2 linked regions of the Homo sapiens genome follow. The protein of the gene in region 2 purifies or fractionates together with the protein of the main gene of each other region. This does not show direct contact. Each region holds a gene or a part of one and is shown on either strand. Other genes may lie near its edges.

Evidence for each region.
Region 1: the proteins of KCTD14 (region 2) and DNAAF5 purify together in Homo sapiens (affinity purification with mass spectrometry; one large-scale study listed by BioGRID and IntAct). This does not show direct contact.

Annotation. Positions count from the first base shown.
Region 1 is NC_000007.14:778,377-782,198, reverse strand, and holds part of DNAAF5 (dynein axonemal assembly factor 5), read right to left. Parts: intron 2,247-3,822; coding exon 2,055-2,246; intron 1-2,054. UniProt on the Homo sapiens protein: Cytoplasmic protein involved in the delivery of the dynein machinery to the motile cilium.
Region 2 is NC_000011.10:78,015,149-78,018,001, forward strand, and holds the end of KCTD14 (BTB/POZ domain-containing protein KCTD14), read right to left. Parts: intron 2,123-2,853; coding exon 1,445-2,122; 3' UTR 567-1,444; downstream 1-566.

The sequences.
Region 1 (3,822 bases), on a different chromosome or scaffold from region 2:
GAGTTTCTGACGCCGCGTGTCGGGAGGCGGCCACGCCGCGAAGATCCGAGTTTCTGACGCTGCGCGACGGGAGGCGGCCACACCAGGAAGATCCGACATCGCATAACCGGATGTAGCCACGCCGGGAAACCGGACGCAGCTGCGCGGGGAAGGTCTAAGTATTTTCCAAAGGAGGCAAAAGGCAAAGTCAGCACATCCAGGCCCAAAGCTTCCACACAGCAAAGGGAAGAATGAGCAGAGTACAGCCGCAGGGACAGCCCGCGGGTACGGGATGGGAGACTGTATCTTAGAACCGCCGCCTGACAAGGATTAATCACTGGAATATATGAGGAGCTCAGGCTCAATAGCAGACAATCTAATAATCCAATTAAAAATGGGTAAAAGACCTGAACAGACAGCTCTCAAAAGACAGCATGGAAATGACAAACAGGCGTCTGAAAAGGTGCCCACCACCACCGCTCCTCAGAGAAATGCACATAGAAACAAGTGAGACATCCTCTGACCCCAGTTAAAATGGCTGCGGAAACAAGTCCCGGCGCGGATGTGGAGACAAGGGAACCCTCACGCTGCTGGTGGGAATGTAAATGAGCACCGCTGGGAGAACAGTCTGGAGGTCCCTCCAAAACTAAAAATAGAGCCCCATACAGCCCGGCAATCCCACTTCTGGGCAAATACCCAAAAGAGAGGAATTCAGCTATGGGGGAGAGCTGCACGCGCACGCCGAATGCCCCACTGTTCCGACAGCCAAGGTGTGGAAGCAACCGGGGTGTCCACGGACAGATGAAGGGAGAAGGAAAACGTGGAGCGCACGCAGTGGAATATTATCCGGCCACAAAAGAAATGAGATCCAGTCATTGGATCAACATGGAGGGAAGTGGAGGTCGCTATGTTAAGTGAAATAAGTCAGGCACAGAAGGGCAAATTCCGCACATTCTCATTTGTGGGAACTAAAAATAAAAATAATTCAACTCATGGAGATAGAGCAGAAGGATGGCTCCCAGAGGCTCGGAAGAGGAATGGGGCCGGGGGAAGAGGTGGGGATGGTTAATGAGTACAAAAACAGAATGAGTAAGATTTAGTATTTGATAGCACAACAGGGTGACTATGGTCAACAATAATTTATCACACATTTAAACATAACGAAAAGTATCACTGAATTATTTGTAACACAAAGAAAGTGTAAGTGTTTGAAGTGACGGGGACCCCATTTCCCCAATGTGATTTACACACACTGCATGCCTGTATCACAGTATCACACATGCCTTATATACACCTATGTGTACCCACAAAAATTAAAAATACAAATTTTATTAAAAAAAAGAACAACGTCATTATATTCACCAACAACAAAACAAAACAAAAAAAAAAAAAAGAAAAAAAAAAGCAAATCGTTACATTCCAAGTGTGAGATGGACCAGCGGATTTTAATGCACTGAGCGTGGAAGGCTCTGTGGTGTGTGGCCTCAGGCCCTGTGCTGTGAGTGACCTTCAAGGGACGGCCTGTGTCGCTGTTGGCGTGGTATTGAAGAAGTCCCACGCCTATCTGAAAAGGCTACTAAAATACTCTTCTTTTGTCCAACTACACTTGAAGCCACAGGCGAGGCCAGATTATTTTCCACGTATTTCAGCCAGAGCCATACACATCATGACTGACTGTATGGAAGATGTGAAAGTCCAGTGTCTTCCATCAAGCTACACATTTAAGACATTTGCAAAAATCGTTCTTGCAGATGATTTTGTTTTGGAAAGTATTTTTCAAAAACACAAGCCATCTGTGTCAATATATACTGGGCTTACTATTGTTATTTTAAACAACTAACAAGTATTCTAGAATACTCTCAGTTTTGATTTCTGTTAGAGGAAATGTCAGCAGCTATCACCACAAAGACAGCCGCTCTCAGGGTTTGCCAAGAACTCAAGAGTGTGCCAGGCCGGAGCTGAGGCCCCTCCTGTGCCCCAGGGCCCTGTGGCCGGTCACACGGCTCAGCTACAGATGCCCGTGGCAGGCGCCGAAAGCAGGCATCGGAACGAAGGCCAAGCCGTCGGAGTCTCACCTAAAATTGCATCCTGGATGGCCCTCTCTGGATCGTCAAGGTGAACCAGCAACTCTCGGTACAGGTACTGGACACTGCTCTGATAGTAGGATTTTGCGTTGGCACCCTTGACACACTGCAGCCAGGTGACCAAGGTGGAGGCGGCTGCCATCCTCACATCGTTGGACACGTCATCTAGGCGTTTTAAGAGTTCTGGAAGGAGGGAGCGAGACAGGTGTGTGAGTCTAGAGCAGACATTTCACGTCTAAACGTCCACAAAGGCATTTAGTTCATACTCCCATGGGACACCTGCCCTGGGGTCCTAAGAAACCCACACCTCACGGGAGACTCCGTGCATCCCGAGCCACATGCAAGGTGCTCCTGGCGACCTGGGACCCCTGAACCCCAGCCAACAGAGTGGAGGCGGCCCAGGCCCTGCTGCGGCCCCTGTAATAACCTGTCCTGCAGGCGCAGAGCCTCCCTGTAGCTGTAGCTGTGTGCTCACCTGGTCCTCCACCTCCTCGCAGCTGTGTGCTCACCTGGCCCTCCACCTCCTGCTCCCAGATGCTCAGATCCCCGAGCTGGCCACCCTGCCCAGCTCTGACCCTGCCCTCCCACCAGAGCTGAGGACTCAGTGACAGACAACCCCCTACTGTGGTCAGTTTTCTGCTGCTGAAAACAGAAGGATGATCCTTCCCGATGGGTAGAAACTTATGAGGTTAATGGACATAATTTTTATCAAATTTATGCTTTTTTTACATCATCTTAAAAAAACTTTGGCACCCCCTTCTGTGCAGCATCCGGAAATTCGCAGATGACTGAGTCGCAAAACCACCCGGAGGCCCATCTTCCCGACGCTGGGAGGGGCAGCTGCCCATGCCTGGCATGAGGCCCATCTTCCCGACGCTGGGAGGGGCGGCTGCCCGCGCCTGGCACCAGGCCCATCTTCCCGCTGCAGACGCGAGGGTGGGCTGGGTCTCTGATGCTTTTGCAATGTGGAGGGCATGATCCACCCTCAGCAAGAGGATCCTATGTAACGAAAGGCATGAAAAACATCCAAAGTTCAGGCCATCCTACCAAGCCAGGCTTTGAGACAAGTGGGACCCAGTGGGTTAATTCCTGGCAGATGCCCAGGCACTTCCCTGAGGGTTCTGGGCCCTGAGGGTGCTGGGCCTTCCAGCCACCAAACACAGGCACCAAGGAGGAAGCCACGGAGCACATCCAGGCATTATGGTGCCAAACCCTGAAGCAGCCCTGCACGGCAGGTGCCCTCACTGCACAGCGGGTATGCTCACTGCACAGCGGGAGCCCTCGCTGCATGGGGGGTGCTTTTGCTGCATGGGGGGTATGCTCACTGCACGGCAGGTGCCCTCACTGCACAGGGGGTATGCTCACTGCACGGCGGGAGCCCTCGCTGCACAGTGGGTGCCCTCGCTGCACGTGTCTCAGGAGGAAGGACGGAGTCAGATGCTCAACTCACCCAAGCTTGTCCCGCTAGCAAACATCTATGGGCCCGGACAGGATCCTCCGAGGCCTCCTGCTGGCGCGGTCGACTATGGAAGTACACAGAGTGGCACTGGCTATTGTGTTTTTACGATGGTCACTCCCTGGATGGCCTGCAGGTCCACTTTTGTACCAGTTTAGGGTTCCTTTCATGCACGACTAAGCCAGGCAGAATCGGCTCACGCTGGCCTGTCTGCTGTTCATGTTTGTGTCTGTCTGTCCTGGGAGGCCTGGATGTCTGTGCTCCCAACTCAGGACATCCTTCCTTCCCCACCAAGGAGGCCAT
Region 2 (2,853 bases):
AATAAGTCTCATGAGATCTGATGGTTTTAAAAAGGGGAGTTTCCCTGCACTTGCTCTCTCTTGTCTGTTGTCATGTGAGATATGCCTTTCACCTTCCACCATGATTGTGAGGCTTCCCCAGCCACGTGGAACTGTAAGTCCATTAAAACTCTCTCTTTTGTAAATTGCCCAGTCTCAGGCATGTCTTTATCAGCAGCGTGAAAACAGACTAATACAGATGGGGTTTCACCATGTTGGCCAGGCTGGTCTTGAACCCCTGACCTCAAGTTCTCTGCCTGCCTCAGCCTCCCAAAGTGCTGTGATTACAGGCGTGAGCCACTGCACCCGATGAGACTTCCAAGTTTTCATACTGGAAGTCCTGTATCCCAAGAAACCCTTTGGTCCCAAGAAAGAAACCCTATGTCCCAAGAAGGTCCCAGACAACCCACATAGCTGATCAAGCTACTATGCAGGGAAGGGGGTCATATAATTCAGACCTGGACTTGGAGAAGAATGAATGTCTACATGTATCCTCCTTTAGAGGACAAGTCCTGTATTAGGGTGAGAAGCAGAACCAAAACTGAGACTCTCGTGCAAGTGGTTTATTGATGGAGTGCTCTTAGGAGAAGGGGAGTGAGGGAAGCAGCGTAGGACAGAGGAAAAAAACTGAGTAAGAATGTGCTCTCAGAAGAAGACTGACTTCAGCTTGATTCCATGAGGAGCTCTGGGAAAGGAAGTTCCTTGATGTAAGAGGTCAGTCTTTTGTACCTCCATACAAGAGGTAGCAATTCTTTTCTAGAGATGGTCTCAAAATTAGAATACATCAAAATCACTTGGAGGGTTTGGTAAATCAGAATGCTGTGCCAACCCCCAGAGATTCTGATTCAGTAGGTCTGAGGTGGGGCCTGAGGATTTGTATTTCCAGCAAGTTCACAGGTAATGCTGATGATGCACTTTGAAAACCTCCACTCTAGAGAAGAGGACAGCTCTGAGGTGTTAGCACCCACAGCATCTCGCAAAGGGGATCAGGAAAGCACCTACTACATGAAGGCACATGCCAGGGACAGATGGATTGGACCCCAAGCTGGGGCTATGTAGACTACATCTTTAGGTCAGAACATCTAGATTCACAGTATCTTGTATGTTCCTGTTGTCATCTCACATCTCTTGCCAACGCATTGTTGAAACATTCTTACTTGGTCTTGTTATTGGACTTCAAGAGAAGGGTCTGGGAGATACATGAGGCTTTGAAAAGGAAGTAGCTGCAAGTTGCTAGGCAAATATAGTGGCATCAGTTGCAATGGAGTGGAAAGTCCTTAAACGAGTGATCAATATTTAGTGGCAAGACTCTAGACCAACCCTGGAAATTGCCTGATGTTTGTGAAATTAAAAGAAAATGGCTTTGATGGCAACTTTTAATTTCATAAGCCACGCCAGAATTCATAACAGTCTCTGCTCCTGAGGATCACCACCAGGTGAAGGTGAATGAATAAATGTTAAAATGGAATTCGTTTCTTTTGGTGGGGTACGTCAGGTAGAACTTGGAGAATACCTTGTACCCCTGGGCCTTAATGTCCATCTCCAGGCAGTGCATGAGGTCGCTGTTGTCTAGGACCGCCTTCCAGGGCCCAAACTTGACAACAGACTTGAACATCTTCTTATCCTGCAGAAAACACAGGACCTCTGAATAATATGCATCCTGCTCCTCAGTTTCCACCAGGCACACAAGCACGCTGGACTTCCGTGCTGTTATGGCTTCTGCACGTGCCAGGCGCACCATGAGCTCCAGGTTCTCGCTGTAGCCCGGCACTTGCAGCAAAAACTGCTTCCGAGACACCTGCTCACCAAAGATCTGTGGCATGTCCTCCAGCAGCTTGACCAAAGGCTTGATTTCGTAGAACTGAGCCTCACGGTACACTTCAGGGATGTGCTGTGTGGGCACTTGCCCAGTGCGCAGGTAGTCCAGGATGGGTCTGAAATAGGTGCTGGGGCGGTCGATGAAGAAGCGGCCCTCCGCGTCCGTGGAGGCCTTGGCTAAGCTAGAGAACATCTCTGCCAGCTTTGAGCCCGGAAACTTCCTCAGGGTACCCAGGGTGGTGGTGTGGAACTCACCCCCGACGTTCAGCTCCACAACAGTAGACATCTGGGGGCACAAGAGGCAGAGTAAACCAACACGCCATCTCCCCTGAGCGCATTACTTATTTTTATCCAAAGGATAACTGGATAAAAAACTTAGGGGAGCCATAATGATTGGCTTCAGCTAGTGAAAGGCCCATCTTACTAAAGAGGGTTATATTTATGCTGTGTTGCTCCAGGGGGTGGGCTTTTTTTTTTTTTTTCGACGGAGTCTCGCTCTGTCACCCAGGCTAGGGTGCAGTGGTGCAATCTCGGCTCACTGCAACTTCCACCTCGATTAAAGCAACTCTCCTGCCTCAGCCTCCCTAATCGCTGGGACTGCAGGCGCCTGCCATCATGCCCAACTAATTTTTGTATTTTTAGTAAAGACGAGGTTTCGCCATGTTTGCTAGTCTGGTCTCAAACTCCTGACCTCACGTGATCCGCCTGCCTCAGCCTCCCACAGTGCCCGGCCGAGGGTGGGCATTTTAAAGAGGAAGAAAGATTTCTGTTTGAAAAAAGAATACCCATTCAAGCATCTTAATTTTAGGTCATAGAATGTTATGGGAGGAGGCCAGGCACGGTGGCTCACGCCTGTAATCCCAGCACTTTGGGAGGATGAGGCAGGCAGATCACCTGAGGTCAGGAGTTCAAGACAAGCCTGGCCAACTTGGCAAAACCCTGTTTCTACTAAAAATACAAAAATTAGCCAGGTGTGATGGCACGCGCCTGTAATCCCAGCTACTCAGGAGGCTGAGG